Linked DNA regions of Homo sapiens. The protein of the gene in region 1 purifies or fractionates together with the protein of each later gene. This does not show direct contact. Each region holds a gene or a part of one and is shown on either strand. Other genes may lie near its edges.

Evidence for each region. The genes of interacting proteins can lie anywhere in the genome.
Region 2: the proteins of EHD4 (region 1) and GNAQ fractionate together in Homo sapiens (co-fractionation; one large-scale study listed by BioGRID). This does not show direct contact.
Region 3: the proteins of EHD4 (region 1) and NT5C2 fractionate together in Homo sapiens (co-fractionation; one large-scale study listed by BioGRID). This does not show direct contact.
Region 4: the proteins of EHD4 (region 1) and GNA11 fractionate together in Homo sapiens (co-fractionation; one large-scale study listed by BioGRID). This does not show direct contact.

Annotation. Positions count from the first base shown.
Region 1 is NC_000015.10:41,966,058-41,969,557, forward strand, and holds part of EHD4 (EH domain-containing protein 4), read right to left. Parts: intron 59-3,500; exon of another isoform or gene 1-58. UniProt on the Homo sapiens protein: ATP- and membrane-binding protein that probably controls membrane reorganization/tubulation upon ATP hydrolysis. Plays a role in early endosomal transport.
Region 2 is NC_000009.12:77,790,812-77,794,311, forward strand, and holds part of GNAQ (guanine nucleotide-binding protein G(q) subunit alpha), read right to left. Parts: intron 1-3,500.
Region 3 is NC_000010.11:103,092,273-103,095,772, forward strand, and holds part of NT5C2 (cytosolic purine 5'-nucleotidase), read right to left. Parts: intron 2,184-3,500; coding exon 2,076-2,183; intron 1,767-2,075; coding exon 1,700-1,766; intron 1,038-1,699; coding exon 867-1,037; intron 1-866. UniProt on the Homo sapiens protein: Broad specificity cytosolic 5'-nucleotidase that catalyzes the dephosphorylation of 6-hydroxypurine nucleoside 5'-monophosphates.
Region 4 is NC_000019.10:3,111,362-3,114,861, forward strand, and holds part of GNA11 (guanine nucleotide-binding protein subunit alpha-11), read left to right. Parts: intron 1-1,968; coding exon 1,969-2,123; intron 2,124-3,500. UniProt on the Homo sapiens protein: Guanine nucleotide-binding proteins (G proteins) function as transducers downstream of G protein-coupled receptors (GPCRs) in numerous signaling cascades.

The sequences.
Region 1 (3,500 bases):
CCAGCTGCTCCCTCTCCATGGCTTCCCTTCTGTCCACTTTTCATTCTGCTGAGGTTGTGCTTGTCTTTACCCAAACCCCTGTGATGCTTGTGGCCAGGCCTCCTTCCCCCAGGCCTAGCTGCTGAGAATTTGACGCCTCACATCCCACTCATTCCTCAACCCGCGCCATCTGGCTTCCTTCACCACCACTCACAGGCACACCTCTTGGCAAGGTCACCTGGCTCCCAAAGGCTAATCTACTGGTTCTGTTTCAGTCCTTTTCCTGGAAGCATCTGACACTACTGACCACCACCTCTCTCCCTGGCTTTTGTGGGGGTCATCGTTGCTTTACTTGCCTCGTATCCCCTTTTCTTGGTAGCAGCATCCTCAGGAGCTGCCTTCCCCAGCTCTCAGGCCACGTGGTTGGTGGGGCTGACCTCCCCACTCCCCACATTTCATGCCCCTGCCCCTAAGGATTGGTTCAGGGATGGGCATATGGTCAGGGTCAAACCAATGAGACTCAAGCCTGAGACTTTTACTGGGGCTGCTGAGCCAGCAGAATTCGAGGCTGGAAATGGAGGTGGCCGCCTGCCCACCCCTGAGAAGGAACACAACATGAGGAGGGCCACAGAGCCAACAGAGTCCTGGTGTGTCTCCTGCAGTCCTGGGCCAAGCCTGAAGCTTGCACATCCTGGTCTGATGGGTTTCAGGAAAACGTTCTTATCTTTTTATCTAAGCTAGCTTTGGTTGGATTTCTGTCACTTGCAACCTAAAGAGATCTGAGACAGCACTGAGCCACTACCCTCCCAGGCAATTACCCACCTCTTTGGTACTTTCCCCGGAGGGTCTCCACAAGCTCTGCTTCCTCTCACTTAAGAGTCCTGTGCAAGGACTTCTACTTCCCAGATGCTGGCTACTAAATGCTGACACTCCCAAGTCAACAGACCAGCCCAGATATCTCCCTGAGCTCCAGACCCATGTCTTACCCCTCATGGACATCGCCACCTTGGTGTCCACTCAAACATGACAGGTCTAAATCTAAACTTATCATTATGCCCCATCCTTCCTCTTCTTGGATCCCCATCTCAGTGAACAGCTGTACTCCCCAGTTACCCCAGAAACCGAGGCCTCATGGGTGACACCTCCCCACCCTCACTCCCTGGCCCTCTTTGGGCAGCTAATTCTCTGCTCATTCCTCAGGGCTCAGCTTTTAGGCTGCATTCTCAGGGAGGCAGCCTTTTCCAACCCGCAAGCCTGAATGAGGGGGTCCCTCCTATGCCCCCAGCCACCCTGTGTTTCTAGTGTTACAGCCCTTGTCACTCAGAGCTGTGGCCTGTTGACTCTCTTCTGTGATGGCTGGCCCCAACCCTGAAATCAAGATCATTTGAATAAATGAACACTAGCATCTGTAGGTGTGATCTTATATTGTATATTGAAAATATAGTCTAATTTTCTGTAAAAATTAAATATCTCAATATTTTAGAGAGATCTGTAAAGGGTATAATATTTGGAACAGAAGATTGATTTTCAGGAGCCCCAGTATCTGGATGAGTGTGAGAACCACTAAATAGGACCCATAGTTTTTCTGTGTGAGATTTTATTTTTTTAAAAATAGATGAACCAGGCTGCCTATTAGTGAATGCCTTCACTTCCCTTTTCCTTAATTACTGAGTCTAGAAACTTATCAAGGGAATGAAGCAGGCCTTTGTTCCTATTCAGAATCCATTTCCCTGCTTTTTTGAAAATGAGAACATCTGCCTGCTTCCAGTGTTCCAATACTTTTCATATTCTTCACAATTTCTTAAAAGCCACCAAATACAGTTCTTTGAGCAGAAATGCAAGTTCTTTCATCCATGTGTCCGGCCAGAGATTTCCTGAACCTCGCCTGTGGCAGGCCCTGGGAGAGCTCCTCAGCCTGTGGTTTTAATCCCCTCTTGAACACAGCTGGGCTCCCTTCTGCCATCTCTGGGGCATTTTCTTTGAGGAAAAGGAGGAAGCTGAGTAGTTCTGCTTTCTGTTAATATTGCAGCAAGAGCCCATGAGTGGGCCGATCACTTCCTGATTCTTGTTCTTGTTCTAATCATACCTTAAAAGGCTTTTTTAATGTCCAAGGCACTTTTACCTTCTCAGCCCACTCCAGCTTCTTGATCCTTCATACCGCCCATAAACCTTGTCTGCACCCTTGCACATGCACCCCTGCCCCTTTTTTCCCCTATTAAATACTATAGTTAAATGTTAATATCTAAAGTTTTTAAACACAATTACGGTATCAAGCATTTTATTAAAAATTTTTATCATACTTTGATTTTACCAACTTGAGTGTTATGAACAATGAACATGTTTATACATTGACAAGAATACTCATACAGGGATTGTGGGATGGCTACTTTCACTCCCTTTTCCCTCATCTTTACTCCTTTTTTTTTTTTTTTTTGTAGAGATGGGGTCTCACTATGTTGCCCAGGGTGGTCTTGAACTCCTGAGCTCAAACGATCCACCTACCTCAGTCTCCCAAAGTGTTAGGATTACAGGTGTGAGCCACTGCACCTGGCCCCTCATCTTTACTCTTTAGTTCCTTTGCCCTTGGGTTCTTCTAGCTTATTTCTACTTTGTTTTCTTTCTGGCATCCATTTCTATTTTAAATTATTACACATAGATGCAGAAATTACTTGGCTGGCGCTAGTTGCAGAATCATGAAAATTAAATCACATGATGCTTAGTGTTGAAAGACTGAATTGTTTTGGTTTTTTATTGAGATATAATTCATATACCAGAAAATTTATTCTTTTACAGGGTGCACTCCTTTAGTATATTCACAAAGTTGTGCAACCAATATCATTATCCAATTTCAGAACATTTTCATCACATCAAAGAGAAACTCCACGCCCACTAACAGTCATTCTCTATTTCGTTTGCATGCGGCTATCCAGTTGTCCTAGCACCATTTGTTGAACTATAGTTTCCCCCATTGTTCTAATAGTTTTTAAGTGGTTTCTTAGGATTCTCTACATAGAAGATCATGTCATCTGCAAAGAGTTTTACTTTTTTCTCTCCAGTCTGGGAGTTTATTTCTTTTCTTGCCTTATTTCCCTGCTCTCTACCCTTTTAAAGCCTATATAGTTTCTTGAGTGACTTCCCTCTTTTTTCCTCATTAGAATAAGTTTTCTGGGGAGAGGGAACAGAGCATATGAAGGGAGAAAGTGGAGCTCTTAAAAATGTGTAGTTTGGGATGGGGCGCGGTGGCTCACGCCTGTAATCCCAGCACTTTGGGAGGCCAAGGCGGGCAAATCACCTGAGGTCGGGAGTTTGAGACCAGCCTGACCAACATGGAAAAACCCCATCTCTACTAAAAATACAAAATTAGCCAGGCGTGGTGGCACATGCCTGTAATCCCAGCTACTCGGGAGGCTGAGACAGAAGAATTGCTTGAACCCGGGAGGGGGAGGTTGCGGTGAGCCGAGATCATGCCATGGCACTCCAGCCTGGGCAACAACAGCGAAACTGTCTCAAAAAAAAAAAAT
Region 2 (3,500 bases), on another chromosome or scaffold:
CATTCCTGTAACCTCATCGTTATGACGCACACCAGCAAACCTGATCTGTCCCCGCCACGGTGAGGTCAGCTGGTAGATTCTGATGAGTAGCAGCTTCAGCAAGTTTTGGGTATAAAGTGCTAAGGTATTATAAACGTCTATGCTTTCCTTTTATCAATTGAGCAACTTCAAAAATCAGGTTTGAAGGATGAATACATGTTTATGGAAACCAAGGTCAGGGAATCCACCTTGATCAAGGAGGGCCTAGGGTAGGGAGAACTATCTTGACGTTTTAATAAAATGATAACATAATTCCTCATGACCATTTCAAGATGATTAATAAATTCAAAGCTCACATTCAAAGAGGACATGGAGGAGAAAAAGGTCTCAGTCTTTGAGATTCTATAAAGAGCTTAGCCTGGAAGACAGTCATTGAGACAATGTCTGAGAAAACATCTTTGTAGTAGTGCTCAGATATTCATGAAACAGAAAATCAGAAAAATAAAGATTAAAAGGCAGTGTTTGGATACACACTGATAAACTAAAATATGTTATAAGCATGTCTTATTGTGTGCTTTGGGCTTTCAGGAGCACTGAAATAACATACCCATGAAAGGATTACAGCAGAATAGTGGATTCCATGCTGGTGTGTTATCACAGGGAAAATAAGACAGCAAAGGGAATACACACATCAATAAGACAGTAAAGGGAATACGCAAATCAACACAGCTCTACCACCCTGGGTATTCTAGCCACTATTTGATAATGTATTTCCTTCTTTGAAGGAAAAAAGAAATTCATTCCCCAAACAATAGAAAGGCTGAGAATCTAGGCAGACAAAAGCAGACCTACATAAAATTATGAAGATTTATAAGGTTTTAGAAATATTAAAAAGCAAAAGCAATAATCTAAAATGCTTCCCTTAGCTGCTTTTGTCTGTGGTCTGCAATGCATTTTCCACAGTTTCCTGGGATAGAAAGAAAAGCTGTCAGAATCCATTCCTAGGTTTTTCTCACAAATATATACCAAGGGAGGGAGGCACAACAAAGTCTGCTTTGGATTAAAGTTATGAACATCAGACTTCTAAACCAAGAACAAAATGTTTCTGGAGTTTATTTCAGTTTTGTCTCACCAAAACCAAAAAATCTGGGGAAACTAGAATTCTGTAGTTCTGAATTTTCTTAATGATTAAGGAAGCTGAGAGGCAATGACATTATCATACATTAGTACAACTGGGGAAAAAAAGGGGTAATGAGACTACATCCCAACATTAAAAAATATTTTTTTGACAGTACTTCCTAATTACAGACAGTGATAGCTGTGGCTAATATGGATGAAGGAATTAATGAACAGCACTTTTCTCATGATCCCATACTATCATCAGGCTTGACTAGAGGTCTCAGAAAGGAACACCGTACAAGTTGACTTTCATCTTATAGAATTACCTAGACTTTCAAAAGATTCACAAGTGATTAGGGAGTCCTAATGAAAAAATGATAGCTTTATTATTTTAATTTGTAATTATTTAAAAGTAGCATAAGACATCACCACAGGAATCAAAGGAACTGGGACAATATTTTTAGACGTTCTTAGTACCTGTACATTGAATGTCAAGTTACTGTGGGAACTTTAATTATGACACATGATAATAAAAACGATGCCATTTTATTCTAATTAACATAATATACTTTTATATAAAAATCTAGTCACTATTAGCTATGTCTGAGGAAAAATGGAATAAATGATCTGTAATGTTCAGATAACTGAAGAACCAGATTCAATTCGGTTGAACTGAATTAGCTGATGAGTTGCCAAAGGATTCTACTTTCTTTTCTATTTTGATAATTTTGAAGTGGTAAATTGATAAGTATTACATCATGACATATACTTCTTCATATATATATAATGCATTTATCTTGTGGAAAATGTGTATTGATAAACACTTGTCCTCCTCTAGCTATAATGTAAACATCAGAAATAAATTCACATTTGCTTCTTACATCTCTTGTGTAATTGATAAATGCAAATTTTATTTTACTGGATGGCAAATTAAAGAAGAGAAATGACAACCTACATAACAAAGGCTTACCTTTCCCCCTATGGCTTATTCTGACCAAAAGCATATCTTGTTTATAAGGTCTTCTAGGGCAGAGTTGATTTTTTTCCCCATTTTTGTGTCTTTTTAGATACTCTGGTACCCAGCATATAGTAGGGAAGCCCTCAAAATATTTTTTTGTCTTGACACAACATTCAAAAAAATCAGAAGTGTTAGAATAGATCTGCTCCCAAAATATGCAGTATGTTTAAAATACTACATCCAGGGATTATGTAACAAACAAGCACAGACATAAAGATATACAGATAAAGATATCATAGCTAAAATTCTGACAGTAACTGCCTTGTATCTTGGTAACTTACTGTCATATATTGTAGCATGCTTTTAGGCACTTTGCTTTAGAGTTATTGGGGGCAACTGATTGATAAACAAGCCTCATTCTTAAACAGAAGTTATTTGGTTAACTCCAAAGCCAATATACTTGTAACTCAGGAATGATTCCGAAATGCATGAACAGGTGACTCTCGGTTCTATATAGACATTGGTTCACGGAAACTTTATCAATCCTATACATAAAAGAAATACTATAGGAGCTTGGATATGTATTTTAATGGAGATATTAATACTGGCAGAAAAATATTTAAAAGAACCAGTCAGGAATTCTTGTGTACCTAAAAAATGTACTGTATTAAAAGCATAATATGCTAGATCCTATTTTAGTCAGCAAACGGGGATCTCTCACTTCCTTCTTTTTTGCTACCCTATTATTGGGATATTTAATATTTATTATTAACCTACCACACTGCAATCTCTGCCTCTAACAGGATATCAATGGTGTCTTCCCCGTTCCCCCAACACACACATACACATGCACACAACTACAGCTCAGAAGTACAGATTTCTACATCCCTTAATATATTCCATAATCGATTCATCGTCAGGTCTTTACCATCCTGAAAATCCACATTTACACCTATTAAGTTTCCCTGTAACAGGGAGGAGATAACAATACTGAAATTGTTCTCCAGACAGGCATATTAAGGATACTTCTTCAACTGCTCACTGCTTAATAGAGACAAAATTATGCAACAGCCTAGAGAATTCTATAAGAGCAGAAAGGCCGCATCACCAAGATATTCCATGGTTCATAATGAACTGATTTAGAGCCCAGCTGCGAAGTCATTCACATTTGCCAAGAGAGATTTTGAGTACTCTTTGGGACACACCCATCACACAAACAATGATTTAAACAAAATGAAAACAAAACAAAACAGGATGACTCACTCCAACACTCCCAGTTCTATCCTGTAGGAGGAAGACTATAAAATGATCTGATGATTAGCCTAGGATTTCCATGTTATTTTCATTTTCAGAACCTCTGCATAGTGTTAAAAAGTATCAAATAGGCTCTAATTAGATTTGAACACAAAGACCTGCTCACACATCTGACAGAAGAGCTTACCAC
Region 3 (3,500 bases), on another chromosome or scaffold:
CTGTATTCAGCTCCATTGGAAAGGTAAAATAATAGTAATAATTTTCTGTGTTTCGGATATGGAGCCTTGGTTGAGAAAGGCTGTCATGTCTATCTTTATACACATATTACCTCCGTTTTTCATCAGCTTTAGGAGGTAGGTATTATCCCCATTTTTACATTTGAGGAAACTAAGGCACAGGGTATCTCATTAACTTGCCTAACGGCATGCAGATTTCAAGTTATGGAGCCAGGGCTCCTACCCCAGGCAGGCTGAGTTTCCGGAGTCACCTTCACCACACTGCAGGTAATGCGCATCAAGGCTGGCTGGAGAACTTGTATATCAAGCACTTTTACAGAACTATATCCGTAACTCAGTTCAGCACAGTGTGTATACTGCATATACACAGCATAGCTTAGTTCAAGAATACAATATGGCCTCATTCTCTAGATCTCAGAAGAGTAAATAAAAAATACCAGAGGTGATTAACATTCAGAGCCATCACTGCCCCAGAATCACAGATATGGGCTGTTAGCAGAGAGACTGGGACTGCTAGGCATGGTTGGGGAAATATGGGACCACAGAGGAAAAGTTGAGCTCCAGTTCACAACTTAGTGTTACTGTAACACAACTCAAGACGCCAACATTCTAAACTTAACCTCGAAGAGATTCAAGAAGGTTAAACAAGATAACCTCTCATATTTATTCAAATTCTGGAGTTCTGTGAAATATCTGAATATTCTATGGGAAGGAAGTATCCAAATATCAAGGCCTGCCTTTTGACCACCTCTGACTTCCTGAATACAAAGTAATGGTTTATCAAAGACGACTGATTCAAAGCTGGTCATTTAGATATAAATTACACCAAAGATTTATGAATGGCTTACAACTCTTGTCAGTCCAGACATGTAGCTCCTGTGCGAGTTCAGGAATCACCAAAAAAGTTCGCCACCCTTGCCGTTTCTTTGATTTTAAAATGTCCCCAAAAATGTGATCTCCAATATACAAAATGTCTTTTCCCTTGGCTCCCAACAGGTCACAGATCGTATCAGAAGAACCTGAACCAACAGAGTGAACAATGAGAAAACTGTCCCTATATTAAAATCAGCATTCCAATAGTATTTAACCATTAAATACTATGATTCATTTTATTCTTATATGAGGAACAGACTAGGAAGAATAGACAAAGACTCACCATTCTCTTTTTACTGCCTTCTAAGACAAGGCCTTCAGCTCCACTGTGCTGACCAGAGCTCTTGCTCACCAAATCCAAGAGCAACAAAACTACATCCTCAGCTTAGTGAAAATAACCTTCAAAACAGCCACTGCCAATTTCATCACAAATCTGCCATTAAGCTGGCTTTACTCAACTGTTTATAACTCCAACATACTATGTACCTATACCCATGGAACTCCTTGAGAAACCCTTGAGAACATATTGAGAAGTACCCCCAAGTGATTCGAAGCACTGAGAAAAAGCCTCCAATAGGATTTAAAAAAAAAACTGATCATTTTAGTGAAAATCAGATTCATTAGGATATACTAACAACTGCTCAAACCCAGACTCCTATTGCATTAAGAGGTGACTAAACTATTTACCTTCAGTAGATGACATCTTAGACTACTAAACAGTATATGTGGCACTTTGCTGAGAGATTACCAAAGCTTTCACTGTGAGGTCTGAGCAAAGACATTAAATAAAGGGAAGTCTGTGACTTACCTCCTGAGTAGACGATACCATGCTGTAGGGGCCCTGTGTAGGTACCAATTTTCAGCTTGCCAGTTTTCTGTATGAAGAATATGGATTTTGTAATACTTTATCATCCTATCACAATCCTCCCCTCACCCCACAACCCTCCCATCCCACCCCCCACCACCAGTGCTACTTGGCCAGACAGCCAAATGAATGGCACTTACTCTTTTCAATTAGTGGGTTTGTTTGACTGTTTCAGTTAAGACCAAAACTCTTAATTTCAAAAGAGAGATACGGCTAATTAAAAAAAAAAAATTCCTGTTTCCTTATGTAGAGTAAGAGTGGGGGAAGGAGAAACATTAAGGACAATGTGCTAGCAAGACAGATCATTCTCATGACTTACAGTATCCACCTGACGCAGTACTGTGCCTTCTCCAAAAAAGAGTGGTTTCCGTGCATCCACCAAGATCAAGTCAAAGTAGGACTGCCATGGTCGATGGGAGCTCCCAGGCTGGTGAAGGAGAAACAGCAAAAGTTGAAACATCACTCCTTACCTTAAGGCATTACTATTTAATCTCACTCAGATGCAAGGAATATAAAAATACTAAGTATAGCCAGAAGATCCCACTATTTTATTTTTTAAAAAGGTATTGTGTCAGCCAGGCACAGTGGCTCACACCTGTAATCCCAGTACTTTGGGAGGCCGAGGCGGGCAGATCACAAGGTCCGGAAATCAAGACCATCCTGGCCAACATGGTGAAAACCTGTCTCTACTAAAACTACAAAAATTAGCCGGGCGTGGTGGCGGGCGCCTGTAGTCCCAGCTACTTGGGAGGCTGAGGCTCGAGAATCGCTTGAACCTAGGAGGGGGAGGTTGCAGTGAGCCGAGATCGTGCCACTGCACTCCAGCTTGGCAACAGAGCAAGACTCCATCTCAAAAAAAAAAAAAAAATTGTGTCTATGTATTATAAGCCATATCCTTTGGGAAGCAGACAAGATATAAATAATAAATAACTGTAATAACACATTCTATACATTAAATCATTTCATCTACTACTAAATTACAATACTTATTTTACAGCACTTTATGAAAGTGTGCTCACCTGAAATTTGCTAAAAGGAGCTCAAAAGAGCTAGGGAGAGATGCAAATCAATACCCAAGGGACAGATTAAGACAGAGGCAGGCATCAGAGCTAAAGTATACAAACTAACATGGAACTATTAGGAAATTTTACTGGTTACATTCTCAGAATGATGGCTCTAGGTACACACTGGCTTTTGGCTCACAGTGTAAGCTAATCACAATACTGAGTTATGCCCATTAAAATCATGACTATCCTGAAATGGAACCCTGGCATTAACCTTTTAAGACCAACCTGAAGGGCACTGCACACTGTGATTTCAGGTGTTCTCAAAACAGGGATTTGCTGATGTTTATTCACTAAAGTCTAGGACTAAAATTCTGTAAGTATGTGACTAAGTTGCAAGGAGTATTCCTTAAACCTAAGTGCAGCCGTACTGCAGAAATGAAGACTTCTCTGCTAAATATCAAGGCTGAGTGCTCTCTTGGCAAAAACTTAGCAACAACTAATACAAAATCTAGAAGTTGTCAAGAATACACATACATTTTCTGTTTCTGTTAATCAAATATCATCCACAACCTGAAAATTCCTTTCATTGCCACACAAACTTAATTTTGCATAGAACTTCTTGGGCATAAAATTATTCTGATCCCATCCTACTAAATATCACATGAATATCCCTTTTATTTCTGTCTATTAAGTATTCAAGTTGCGGACTCTAAATTAGCAATTTGATTTTAAATTCT
Region 4 (3,500 bases), on another chromosome or scaffold:
CCTGCCTCTGTGGATCGGTCTGTCCTGAACATTTCATAGAAATGGGATTGCACGCCATGTGGCCTTTTGTGTCCGGCGTCTCTCACTGAGTGTGACGTCCTCAAGGTGCATCCACACAGTGGCCTGTGTCAGAGCCTCGTCCCTGTTCATGGCTGAGTCATGTTCCAGTGCATGGAGGGACCGCGTATTTGCCCATTTATCCCCTGGAGGACATTTGAGTGCCTTCATGTGTGGGCTGTTGGGAACGGAGCTGCCGTGACCGTCTGTGGACGTGTGTTTATGTGGATGATGTGTTCCCTTCCCTCAGTTGCATGCTACGCCTGGGAGCAGAATTGCTGGGTCCCAGGGTGACTCTGGCTTTGCCCTCTGAGAAGCGTCCAGAGAGTTTGCCCCAGTGGCCGCCCTATGGGGCAGGCCCAGCAGCCGTGCAGCCGTGGCTCCTGCCAGTGGCCTCCCTGGGGCCTTTCAGCTGAGGGGCCATTGATCCCGCTTTCGTAGCCCTGCTTTCAGGGGTAGGGCTCTTGCCCTTAGATCTTGGTTTGCCACTTGCCCTGTCTCCCGCTGTGATCTCTTCCAGCTGTGGCCCTCTCTGAGAGTCCATATTCATATTTGGGCTTAGATCTCCATCAGCTTCTGAAACACGCATCTGCAAACTGCAGACTGATTTTGTCGATAAAGTTTTATTGGCACATACCCATTTCTGCCATGTTGCCCATGGTGCTTCAGCAGCAGCAGCAGAGCCGAGTGCTGGAGACAGTCCGTGTGGTCGGGAAGGCTGGGTGTGCTCTCTGGCTCTCTGCAGAAGCAGATTGCTGCTGTCTAATCTGGAAGTTTCCAGGGAGTGGGATTTTTGGGGTTTGTGTCTCTTTTTCCAAGTCCCCCTAGGTGTGCTTATCCCAGCCCAGATTGAGAGGCTGGGGGCAGGGCAAGGGGAGGGCTGAAGTCGGAGTCCGGGGCAGGGAGCGTTGCTCAGAGGGGACAAGCAAGGGCTGAGTCTCCACTCTGGGGGGCCTGGGAGGGCCCCGTGGCTCCCAGAGCCCAGGGCAAGGCTCCCTTCTTTCCCATCTGGGTCCCACCCAGTATGTCCCCTCCCCAGTCCCTCAGCCAAACTGTGGCTGGTCATGTCGGCCTGTGCGCCCCGGGGACGGGGACACAGAGCATCAGGAGGGGAAAGGATGGCCCCCCCACAGTGTCTGCCCCAAAGGGTGTTCACATGTGTGTGCAAGCACGTGTCTGTGCGGTTGGCCTTCCTTTGTGACAGGGCAGCAAGCTGGGGCCTGATGCCACCCGCCGCCCAGGGTTCCGTGAGGGGGAGGCGGCTCGTGTTGGGGCACCATGTAAACTGTTGAGTGCGGCAGCTCGGGGGCCACACGCCGTCCTTAGCACCGGGTGTGGTATCTGCTCTTGATGATGTTTGATAAGCATTTTTCGGACGAAAGAGAGAAGCCGGCGGGGCAGAAACCGAGTCTGGAGCTGCACACTGCAGGCGATGCCGCTGGTTGCAACGTCCTGTGACTGGGCTTCCTGCCTCCCGGTGTGTCTGGAGAATTCGAGGCAGCGAGTGCTGGGGCTGTTGGTTAGTTCTGTCGTCGTGCTTGGTCGTGCTCGGCGCTGCACTGCCCTCCTGTGGGTCCTGGGTTTGAAGTGTGTGTGTTCTACACGTGCTTGTTCCCCACACCGTCCCCTCCCCACCTCTAAGAAGTGAATCGAAGCCCGGCCTCCCCGGCACCCTGCAGACCGCACCGCCGGGAGGCTTTGCTTGTGGGGCCTTGTTCGGAGGAACCACACCGCCAGGCGGCCTCGCGTTTTTCTGACACGTGTTCACACGGAACTGTCAGTGGTCCTGACTGCACAGCCTGCGGAATGCCGCCCGGGCCAGCCGAGGCCTGGAAGAGGGGCCGTCACAAGCTTTCTGGTGGATGTGTGGCCCCAGCGAGCTCTCGACGTCTCCCCTGCCCGCCCTCGCAGGCCAATGCGCTCCTGATCCGGGAGGTGGACGTGGAGAAGGTGACCACCTTCGAGCATCAGTACGTCAGTGCCATCAAGACCCTGTGGGAGGACCCGGGCATCCAGGAATGCTACGACCGCAGGCGCGAGTACCAGCTCTCCGACTCTGCCAAGTAGTAAGTGCGGCCGCACCGCTGGCGGCCTGGGGACGGCAGCTGCGGGCCGGTGCCTGGGACCCTTCGGGAAGGCCTCCGCGGCGTCTGTGGTGCCCCCTGCCTGCTCGCCGGGGGCAGGGATGCGGTGGGCCCGGGCCACCTGGCCGGATGGAGGGACCAGAGCAGATCCCTGGAGGGGCCACGCCTTGGCAGGAGCCGGTGGACTCTGGTGTGACACTGGCCTGCTTGTATGCCTGGCCCTGCCGCTGCCCTCCCTGGGTCAGGAGTGAGCTCCTGGCCACCCTCGGTGCTGGAGCCCGGCCTGTGGCCTGTGGGGGAAACCCAGGGTCTCCTAGGAGGGCCGTGGGATGGGAGGTAGACACAACCTGGGCCGTCTCGCTCCTGCCTGGGACATCGTCCCCAGAGCCACGTCTCCCACTAGTGACTGGCTGTGACCTTGACTGATGTCAGGGTTCTCCCAGTCTCTGGGCCTGGGATAGGGGGTGACTTGTGTGCTGACAGGTGGCCGGGCCATGGCCGCAGGTGGAGGCCCCCGCGTGGCAGGCTGTGCACTGCTGCCCTCCATGCTTGGCAGGCAGAGGCCCCGGCCCTCCCCCAGCACCGGGAGAGACCCTAAGGCGACAGGGACAGGCCTGTCCCCCGCCCCTCCTGCCCGTCCTCTGTGTGTTCCCTGCCTCTGGGAGGTTGTGGGAGGGCCCAGATAACCAAGCACTTGGAACAAAACGCCAGGGCCTCCTCGCGGTGCCGGAAAGGTCTGAGCAGGCACCCGGCCTCTTACAACCCCCACCCCAGGCAGACCACTCGAGGGGCGCCCCACTCAGGACTGCCCAGGGCGTCAAAAACGGGAAACTGTCCCAACCCAGAGGGCTGGGCAGGAAAAGGCATGAGGGGAACCAAGGAAGCCGGAATCAAGCGTGGACTTCAGTAGCTGCGCTGTGTAGACACTGGCTCATTGCTCGTGGTGGGTGCCGCACCCACGTACAGGGAGCAGCAGGGAGACGGGCACGGGGATCTGCTGGGACCTCTGCAGCCTCTGCAGCTGCGACTCTCCTAATGATGCGCTTGTTTGTGAAGCCTCATCCCTGGGGCCAGCCAGGCCTCTCTCGGGAAGTCCCCTGCCCTGGGTCACCGTCTCCCTCCTTGGTGGCCGTCTCTGGACAGCTCTACTACAAACCCCCCGAACCAGCTGGAGTCCTCGTCCTGGGACTTTCTCTTGTGCTGGGTCATTTCTGTCCCCTGAGACCCCAGAGAGGATAGAGGTTGGGAGGCTCGTATCCCGACCCCAGGGTCTCCATTGGCCCGAGCCCTCCGGGCTGCTTCAGACACTGCCGTAGGTGGCGCAGTGCGCGGTCCACCCCCTCCTGGTGGCTTTCCGTC